2 separate regions of the Homo sapiens genome follow, and region 1 is linked to region 2. The links come from fine-mapping of genetic effects on gene expression. A gene starts in region 2. The other region holds a variant in brackets. All regions are shown on one strand. Distances are from middle to middle.

Region 1 (5,387 bases), 71 kb before region 2:
TTGATAGAATTGCAGCTGGAGGATGAGCAGAACAGTTGTCAAGGAATAACAAAAGCTTCTAGTTATCATCCAGTCCAACTTCCCTAGAGTGAGCAAAAGCTACTGGTACAAAATATTTTGAAACCAATCAGAAAAGATATTCCTGGTGATACATGCCTCTTTGTTAGCATAATAATGGACTGGTAAGAAACTCACTTCTTGAAAACAGCAAGGATGTAAGCTTTTGACTATCACAGCAAGTATATACCAATATGTGCCTGCTGCATTAGCACATCCCAGTAGCTATTCTGTTCTTGGCATCCTCAATTATTCTTGTAGGGGTCATCTCATAAGTCATAGTCAGTGTCTTTCTGGGGCAATAACACCAAAAGAGTAATGTTTCATCAGCATTATAGACTTGTTATGGTGTCAGATTTTAATCAGTGATGACTTTGGCAAATTTGTCAATAAATTTTTCCATTGCTTCACGATCAGCAGACACTTCATCACCACAAATCTTTAAAAATTTAGTGCCATGTCTTTTCTTAAACTTCTGCAACCAGCTTGTTGAATATTCACAGTTCCATTCCATTTTCAGTTCACTCTGATAGATCTTTGCTTGCTTCACCATCAGCATACTATTAAGTGGCATGTGTTCACTGCAACGCTGATGGATCCACTCCTTCAATACACAATCGAGATCTTCATTTTAAGCTTTATGCAGTGTTTTCCTATTTTTAATCAAATTCTGCTCATCACTTTAAGCATAAAAATTCCACAGTTTATCCTTATTTTCATACATGGTGATCATTCCAACACCATACTCTTCCATAAGACATTTCACACTTAGACTGCTGTTCAGTATCTGTTCTACAGACAAACATAAATGTGTTCTCTTTTTCTTATTACTATTACCCATATGCAGACCTTTTTGACATTTTCAACAATATCTTTATACCACAGAGCAGAGAATAAGCAAAAAAACACAATGAGTAATACATGCCATCTTGGCTCCCCATGGGGCATCATGGGGAACCTGCTATTGGCACATCCGGCCTGCACGTGTGTCATTTTTATTACCCTTTGTGAGTGTGCTTGCATGGGGGAATCTGGGCATTGGGTAGAAAAGATGTATTGCAGCTGATGGGGGCTGGGTGGGTCTATTTGTCTTGAGAAGGCTGAATAAACTGTGTGTTGCATGCCTGCATTTTGACTGACTGCAACTCATCATGTGAATGAGGTTATGTGTGAAATTTTCCACTTGTGGTGTGCATATGTAAGGAGGTCAGGCATCTTTTCTTTCCTCATTTGTGGTGTCATGTCATGCTTGAAAATTTTCAAATTTGACCATTTTGGATTTGGGGGTTAGGAATGCGCAACTTATGCTGTTTGATTCCATTGATATAAAATGTCCAGAAAAGGCCAATCTATAGATATGGAAAACAGATCAGTGGTTGCCTGGGGTTGAAAGTAGAAGCAGAATTGATTGCAAATGGGCACAAAGAAACATTTCAGGCTGACAGAAATGTTCTAAGTCTGGATTGTAATGATAAGACCATACAACTCTATACATTTATTAAAAATCATTGAATTATACACTCAAAATAGGTGAACCTTATGGTACATAAATTATACTTCAATACAGATTTTTTTTTGAGGGTATGTGGCTTGGACCATACGTCTCAGAGGAGAGGTGGTAAGTAGTAATAACAGATGGCGGAAGACATTACAATAACAGGCACCAAATAAATGGGGTGATCAGGGTCTTGATCTGGGGTCATTACACAGGTCAATAGATCCATTATACTTGTGCTTCATTTTTTCCTCCATGGACTGTTCTTTTAATAAATTCTTATATTCTTGACCCTTTAGTATATGAATCCCAGGAGGGCAGAGACATTTGCCCATTTTTTTTTCACAGCTGTTCACCCAGGGCCTGTCATTTAGTAGGCCATCAATAAATATTTTTTGAATGAATAAAGGGCTGAAGAGCTGACAACCAGGGGATAGAAAAGTAGCTATGAGTAGAGCTCAAGCCAGGTAGCTCTTCCAAGGCTCTGAGAGTGTAGCCTTAGAGGCCCTTTAACCTGAATCACTTCCGAGGCTCAGGATGCTGTGCTCCTCCACACCAGGCCTACTCCACTTTTTCATCCCATTAGTAAAACTTCACCATATCTCAGGCCCATGTGTTTCAGTTGGAGACCAGGCAATATTTCACCCCATCCTTCCCTATCTTAACTTCTTTTTACAGCTCAATGTTAAAACAAGTTAATCGAAAACACCTCCTCAAACTCACACCATTCACTCAGCTCTTGCTATCCTGATTGCCATATTTTTCACTTTATCTTTGGAATTTTGCTCCATTATTTTGCATTTCTGACAGACAGAACAGAATGTCTCTGACTTGCCACCTTGAGAACCTCCTTCTAAGAACCCAGCAACCAAAAGCATAACACAATTGGTTTTTAAAGAATTGAGGTCTGGCCAGGCGCGGTGGCTCACGCCTGTAATCCCAGCATTTTGGGAGGCCGAGGCAGGTGCATCACGAGGTCAGGAGATCGAGACCATCCTGGCTAACATGGTGAAACCCCATCTCTACTAGAAACACCAAAAATTAGCTGGGCGTGGTGGTGGGTGCCTGTAGTCCCAGCTACTCAGGAGGCTGAGGCAGGAGAATGGCGTGAACCCGGGAGGCGGAGCTTGCAGTGAACCGAGATCGCGCCACTGCACTCCAGCCTGGGCAACAGAGCAAGGCTCTGCCTCAAAAAAAAAAAAAAAAAAAAAAA[AAG/G]AATTGAGGTCTTACTCTGTCACCCAGGCTGGAGTGCAATGGCACGATCACAGCTTACCACAACCTCAAATTCTTGGGTTCAAGCGATCCTCCTGCCTTATCCTCCTGAGTAACTGGGACTACAGGCACTTGTCACCTGCCTGGCTAATTAATTTTTTTTTTTTTTTTTTTTTTTAGAGACAGGGTATTGCTATGTTAGACCAGGCTGGTCTACAACTCCTGGCATCAAGGGATCCTCCTTTTGGGTCCTCAGCCACCCCAAGCTCTGAGATTACAGGTGTGAGCCACTGTGCCCGGCCTAAAAATGTTTTTTAAACATTTTGAAAACACCCACCATGCTTTAGTGAGAGAACACTTTTCTTCTACCTCCTGTTGCATTACTAGTCCATTAAATTTCTTCACCCCACTCCTGAAGATGCATTGTCTACAGCTGCACCTGGCCCGACAGTCCACTATGAAGGCTCTGATTTAGATCCTGCTGGAGGACCACCTATATTGTTGTCTTACCAGTGGTCTCCCAGGCTGTAAAAATCTCTGGAGACTTGTTTATCATTAAATTTTAAAAGGCAAGAAAATGAAAATCAGAACAACCCTAATGTAAAATTCCTACATGTCTGTCCCTTTAGCAGCATCTAACTTTTTATCTTTTCATGTATTTCATATACTCTCACACCTACACACACACACACACACACACACACACACACACACACACATTCCTTTTCATTTTCCTTGCTTGCTTGTTTATGTTTGGTTTCCAACCCTAAGTATTGGAGCTGAATTCTGCATTCCATCTATTAGTGTCATCACAGAAGACATCACATCTTCCTGAGTTCATTTATCATTCCTCCTCCTCTCTCGACATCCTTTTAAATATGCAAAGTCTCATCACAGTATCGCGGTCCCAGCAGCAGTCGTAGCTGCACTTGTCTGCAAAGGAAATAAGGGAAAGATTGCAAGAATATGATGTGAATACATAGTCTACCTTGGAATCATGACTCATTCATTTTTCATGTATCCAGAAAATTTTTACTAAATTTCTAATGTGTGAAGGTCACTGTGGAGGTTGTTCAAGCAATGCTAAGACATAAAACACAGTCTTTACCTTTAAGAAATTGCCACCAAGTAGTGGAGATAAAACATATGGAAGAAGAGGGTAGGGGATGACAACTGCTAAGCATTAGAGTGGGGGCTTTAAAGGAGAGCAGGCATCTGGCCAGAGGAGTTGGCATAGAGACAGTGGCTTGGTGGTGGCATTTGAACTGGGTCTTAGAAGATGAGTATGGCTTGAAAGATAGAGAAAGGGAGGCAGAAGAGAAGGAATTCTAGGGCAAGGGAGCAGCATGAACAAAACCACGGAAATGAAGAGCTTAAACTGTATTTGTGGATGAGACCAACAGCAGGGGCTCCTCCTTCATCAGATGTACCCAGAAAGTAGAGCAACAACACAGATGTCCAAGTCTCACCCAGAGATTCTGCTGGAGCGCTCTTCCTACTTCTCTCTGGAGGACCAGCTCCTTCTCACAACTTCAACTGTGAGATTATGTGTCAGCTTCTCACAAAGGCCCTTCTCTGACCACCACATCTACAGTAGGGCTCCTTCCTGCCAATGTCCTCTCTGTCAGCCTCCTTCTTTCCCATCATAGTGTGTCATAGTTTATAATCATTTTGTTGATGTTTGTCTGCTTGTCTGACTCCAATGGTAGCATCAAAAGTCTCTGATAACAGAGACCAGGACTGATTGTTTAGTGCCTGAAAAATAGTAAGAGTGCAATTAATATTTGTTGATTGAATGAGTGAGTAATTGAGTTATTAACGAACAAATGAAAGTTAAACATTTTTTGAGACAGGGTTGATGATTTTATTTATTTATTTTACATTTAATGAGTGCATACCTTATTACTTGTCTTTAAATCTTTCACCAAAGTTCATTTATTAAATCTATATTTTCTATTTCGGGGAAAGTCACATGACTTTCATGGGACTTGACACTTTTGCTTTCATAGGTATCTTTGTCCAAAAAATATTAAAATTATGTTTTACAACTGTGTTAATATAATTATGCATACAATACAATTTGGATTGTGTTCTTTTTTCTTTTGATTGAAAAAGAAATTAAAAGATCCTGGACCTCTAAAAGCATTGTGGGACCTAGGTGCTGTACTTCCTGTATCTAATAGGTAAATCAGCCCTGTGAGTAGTAAAATTGTTTTTAAAGACTTAATAGAAAACAAGGCTAGACAAATAGTATGGGAAAAGATTATAGAAGGACTTGTACACCAGATTTTGAGTTTAGTAAATTTCAACTTTATTTAGGAGGCAATAAAAATCACAGAGAGTTTAAGCTAAAGAATTATATTTCAATATGGCAGAGCCATTGTAGGAAGAAGAAGCTGCAGGACAAACGGAGAAGATGCTGGTCAGGAAAGCTCCAGAATGTGGTTCAGACCCCATGAGATGAAAAGGATTGAACTATGGGTGATAGTGATGCTCTTCTTGCTGGAAGAGCAAAAGCTAACCTGAGAAAACATGTGAATTTATCTTACAACCAACTCTCTAGGGAGGGTGGATTCAAAGATGGCTGTGTTTCTGAACCAGAACTGGGAGAACAGTGTGATCA
Region 2 (5,387 bases):
AATTCTTCTAGGTATAGTGGAAGTTAAAAGGCAATATAAGATCTTATCTCTGTCTCTAAAGAACTTGCAATTGTTAAATACATGCACACTTAAAATTGTTAGGCAAATAACAATATATGACTGTAAGTGATTAAAAACCATGTAAATGGAATAAAAAACATGACACAGCAGGTCAGAAGAGCTCTACTCAGAGGGACTGGTGAAAGATTTATAGCAGAGGTGGGATGGGATACAAGTTGAGCACTGAAGAACATTATGATTTAAGTAAGTGGAGAAGTAGAGTAATACTGCAGGTAATTACACAAAGGTGGGATTAAGCCACATACATTCAAGGGCCTGTAAAGAAACCTATCTGCCAGCAATAGAGAAACCTTTTTAATAAAACTTGTGATGGGACATGTTAGTGGGTACTGTGTATTTCCCTAGCCTCTTATTTGTATATGGAGAGAATCTGCTAGAGTATCAGTCCTAGCCTCTCTACCCACTCTTTCTCACTTTAAGAGTAGATTTTTTAAAAGGAATTGACAAGGAACTAGAGAAAGCTGCTTCTTTCAGACTACTGGTCAGCATAAGGGGAATACTTTTCAGGGGCCTACACCTGCAGGAGAATTCTGAGGCTGCCCAGCTATGCCAGCGACTAGGTGGATATGCAGGGCTAATGCTGAGTTGAATTATTAGCAGACCTGCATGGGGACAGGTCTAAAGTCACATTCTCCCATCAGCTTCACTGTAACTGTACAGGTTCAGGAGGACAGGGGTTAATTAGTTGTCGACTTCAAACATGTTTTGAAAATAACACCCAAAACATAATTTTGAGCCAGGTTACAAGGCTTTGGTGGTCAAGCTAAACATGTGATTTTATCAGTATGGAAACACTGAGGATTTCTAAGCAGGAGAATAATAAAATAAAAGTGTGTTTGGGGATAATAAATCTGGTACCATTTTACTGGATGAAACTACATAATTTTTAAATTAACAGAAAGGTGAAATTGGAAAAACAAATACCCCCTATTATTTTATTACTTGTTCTTTTTCTTTTAAAAATTAATTTGATCCTTCAAGAAGAGAAATCAAAAGGGGAGATTTGATGGTCAAGGTGTATACAGCCATTAACTTGAAAAAGAAAACAATCTACAAGTATATAAACTGAATAACACCACCAAATCTAGATAAAGTCTTAAAAAGTTGTTACTGGTGTTTCGCTTATTAAGTACTTATATAGTGCTTTCTGTATGTTGAATGGCTTACAAATATTCATTAATTTAATCCTGTAACAACCGTATAAGTAAGTATGGACTATTAATATCCCCATTTTTCAGGTGAGGAAACTAAGGCATAATAAGATCAAGCAACTTGTCCCAAATCACAAGGTTGATAAGTGACAGAATCAGGATTTAAACTGAGTCTGATTTTGAGTTCATGCGCCTAACCAATATGCTGCCTCTCCATGCTATTGTTTCCCTAAAAGGGCACTAAATAATATTTCCATGCTATTGTTTCTTTTTCTCACCTTTTGGGAGGATGAAGGGGACAGAGTAGGAAGATAAAATTAAGCAAGAGAAGCTGAAAAAGGTTAACTCTTCAAACTTATACCTTCAAATTTTTTCTTGGCTGTTTTTAGATGATTATGAATTATTGCTCTCTAGCAGAAGAGTGCAATTCTGTTAAAGTACCGTAGAGACTAGTTTTTGAGATTCTTACAAAACCCACATCTCCATTCACTGTCTATTCACTGCTTGGAACCGTACTTGTACAAGGCAGTAATGTCTCAAGCAGAAGTAAGCAGAGGACTATCTTGATCTCGCCTGCTGCTAATCTAGAAAAATACACGCAAAATGTGAGTAGCTCTGCTTTGAGCAAGAACCTATTCAAACTTTCGAAGAAATCTGAAATATTAGGAATCTGCACCTTTTCAAAATAAAGATGCATTCTGGGCCCAAGGCTAAGTGTAAACGTGACTGTGCTTAAATCTTTATCACTATGGACCCCTAGATCTTATCCATCGCCCACAAATTGTCTTGCATGGTTACCGTGAGGATTAAATAAATTTATCCCCCAAAGGGGATTTACCTAGACAGCAAAACTAGTGGAGCGCTTATTAGGGATCTCCGGCTTGAGAGGGGCGGAGTTACTGTCTGGCTCTCAGTTCCAAAATGGCTTTGGCTGGGGGATTGAGATAGTGCAACTTGTTTAAACAAACAAAACCGATGCTGCCTGAGGCTGGCAGTTGTGCACACCGGTCCCCCTCGGTGAGGGTGGCGCGCGTCCTCAGTCTCCCACTGAGGAAGAAAGAAAGAGAGCTGCCTGGGAGTGTTCTGCCTGGGTTAGGGGCCTGGACGGCGCCCTGCTCCTCTCGCGCCTCCTGACCTTAGGGTGAGTGCCCATCCAGGCGTCCTCAGGGGCCCACGAAGGAGCTCCACCGCCGTCGCCAAAGCCGCGAACACCGCCCGGACCCAGGCCGCTGCAGCCGGGGGTCGGCTCGGAATCGCCGCGCTCCTCCATGCCGGCCGGTGCGGCGCTCCCGTGGTGCACCACGACCCGCGCCCGGCCAGAAGCAGCGGCGCGCGCGCCTGTGGGTTCCGCTTCCCCGAGGCTCGCAGCTGCAGTGCGAGAGGGCTCAGAAACTGGGAGGAAAGTTGCATCAGCCCCTCCTTCTGACCAAGGTAGCTAGAACCTGCGCGAACGCTCTCTAGTTTCGCTCTGCGTTTATTCAAATCTGAGCAAATTCTAACGTGAAAAATATTAAAGAGTAGCCTGCGCCCTGAAGCTCTTAATCCTCTTTAAGTCAGTGCTGCCGATAACTCTCTGAGAAAGTTGGGGGATACATACGTCCTCTTTGCCTTCAGCAGTGGGGTCCTGGTTTCTGATTGCTGGGGACGGGAAAGGCCTTACTCAGTGCCCTGACATAGAACTTTAAAGTAGAACCATACTTTCAGGGTGGACCCACGTTTCAGGATTAGAGGAAACACGAGTTGCTGAACGAGTGTTCAGAAAGGTAGGATACAAACTAGCATAAGCATGTGATCTGGAAGCCAAGGATGAGGAGTTTCAAACAGGCAGAGTAGCACATTTTAAGTATTTTTTAATTTACTGTGAGTGAAATGGGAAGCTATTGGAGGCTCCTGGACGTTTTCATAGGATCACTCTGACTGATATGTTGAGGATAGACTGGAGGGAGCAAGGACACAAACAGAGACTGGTTAGGAGGCTATCGCATTGACCAGGACAAGGGTGACTCAAAATCCAAAGTCCCAGGCAGGACATAACTTCTGTTTTCAACCATGATAGACTAAGACCCTAGTGGACCATCCCCCAGCAGAAAACAATTTGGACACAATGCAAAAAGCTGAATATACTGGAATGTGAATAGTGGACTGGTAGGAAGGGCAAGCTTGCTTGAAGATCAGGAACTACACTTGGACACAATACAAAAAGCTGAATATACTGGAATGTGAACAGCAGACTGGTAGGAAGGGCAAGCTTGCTTGAAGATCAAGAACTCCACAAGAAAATTCTCCTCTCTTTGGCATTTAGCTTGGGGCAAAGTGCAGTCCAGAAGTCAGGCTCAGCAGTACCAGGGATGCATGTATAAAACTTATCAGTTATTCTTGTCTGGGGAAGCAGAAAAGTGAAGACAGAAAATTTTGAATTCTGAAGAGATTAAGAAATCCCAAGGAAGGAGTCAGAGAGTGGATCCCCAAACTGTCAACCCACATCTCTGAGAGATCCTGAACCACCCAAAACAGAATCACAGCAGCTCAGTTAAAAACAAAAGATCTGAACTGAGACCAGAGCTGTCTCCAAAAGGGAGAGAGTTTTCAGTTAAAATCTAGCCGGGAAAATTACCTACTAATACAAAGGAAATAACACTCATCAGAGAAGAATAATAGAATCCAGACTCTCCACTTAACACTCACAAAGTCCAGAGTACTATCCAAAACTATCTGACATATGAAATTCAAGGAAATGGATCGCATACTCTAGAGATCAACCCTGAGATGAATCAGATATTGAAACTGACAGATAAGGATTTTAAAGTGACTATTATAACTATCCTCAATGAAGTAAAACATGTTTTCAATGAATGAAAATCTCAGGAGACAAATAGAAAATCTCAGCAAAGAAAAAGAAAAAAAAAGATTTTTAAAACCAAATGGAAATTCTGAAAATTGAAAATTATAATTTTAGAAATAAAAAATTCACTGGGTGAATTTAACAGCCAAAAAAAATTACAAAAGAAAAAGTAGGGAACTTGAAGATAGAGCAATAGAAATTATTAAAAGTAAACAACAAAGAGAAAAATTATCTTTAAAAAGTGAGTAGACCAACAGAGATTTGCTACATGTCAGACAATCCAACATGCATGTAAACAACAGAAGTAGAAAAAAAAAGGGACAGAAAAAATTTTTGAAGAAAGAGTGGTGGCCAGAATTTCCCCAAATTTGATGAAAAACACATTTACTAGTACAAAATGCTAAATACATAGCAACTAAAATAAACACAAAGAAGTCTACATTGTAATAAAACTATTGAAAGTCAAAAAAATAAAGAGAAAAGCTTGAATGCATCAAAAGAAATAACACATCATACACAGGGAAAAGAAGGGCATCTATTATTGAATGAAATGTAAAGCCACACATGAAGATTCATATGTTGCCCTCAAATACATTACATTTGAATGAACCTTTGCCACCACAAAGCAGCTGCTAAGCCCGAAAGAAGAAAATGGCACTGAAATTAATTGGGTCATTGAAGCATGAAACACTGACACGAATTCAAGTGATTGGAAGTGAATAAATCTCTCTGACTCCTAAAGATCCAAATCAGTTCATATGATGGCATTTTTAAAAGCATTAAGAGTATTTTGATGCTAATCTGAGTAGAGGGAAACTTTTATAAATCAGTAAGGATATCCAATGGGATTAGGGACTATATGAACCAGCCTCAAACATCTGCAGGGGAAGAATTTCAGCTTATGTTCAAGAAAAAATAATTGGGGGTATGGAAAGAACCATAAACCAAAAAAGCAACAGATAAATGCCATCCTTTGGCAAATAGATTAAATACTGTTGCTTAGAAAAAGCATGATACATTCAAGAATGAGTATTACGTGCTTTTCAAAAGAGTTGAAGAATGAAAAGGGAGTGTCTGTTAGCTTCCCTGTTAATGTAAATTTTTAAATAGGTCTTGGTGATTGTGAATGGCTAAGAATGAACACAAAGGATTTGGGAACACTTAGACAACCCAGTATTTAAAGTACAGAATCAAAATACCTATTGTGACAATCTAGAGTGAAATCCACTAGAGAACAGAGGAGAGTTTCAGTGTCTGGTATCCTGGAGGATTTCTCATTTTGTAAATGCTTCAATAGTTCACTCTATTAGAGA

Alleles and levels. Alleles are on the strand shown, and positions count from the first base shown. SD is a standard deviation of normalised expression in the study named.
For the expression in monocytes after interferon gamma of the gene that starts at base 2,528 in region 2, allele G in region 1 goes with a higher level than allele AAG (moderate effect, 0.46 SD a copy in Fairfax 2014).

The links. PIP is the estimated chance that this variant, and not a neighbour inherited with it, causes the effect. A credible set is the group of variants that fine-mapping cannot tell apart.
Region 1: its variant is the best candidate, but not a certain one, in a credible set for the expression of TSEN15 in monocytes after interferon gamma (Fairfax 2014, PIP 0.73).

The regions. Positions count from the first base shown.
Region 1 is chr1:184,120,097-184,125,483 of GRCh38, reverse strand. It overlaps LOC102724830 (a long non-coding RNA gene), which reads right to left. Exons shown (of 4, transcript XR_426875.4): 3 at 4,234-4,519; 4 at 1,521-3,697. Among named protein-coding and RNA genes, the nearest start is that of TSEN15, 71 kb to the right of the region's middle. The variant AAG/G (reference allele first, on the strand shown) is at 2,766.
Region 2 is chr1:184,048,871-184,054,257 of GRCh38, reverse strand. It overlaps TSEN15 (tRNA splicing endonuclease subunit 15), which reads right to left and starts at 2,528. Exons shown (of 5, transcript NM_052965.4): 1 at 2,368-2,528. The coding sequence starts at 2,502. RefSeq lists enhancers at 2,449-2,743, 2,622-2,751, 2,812-2,921, 2,674-3,609.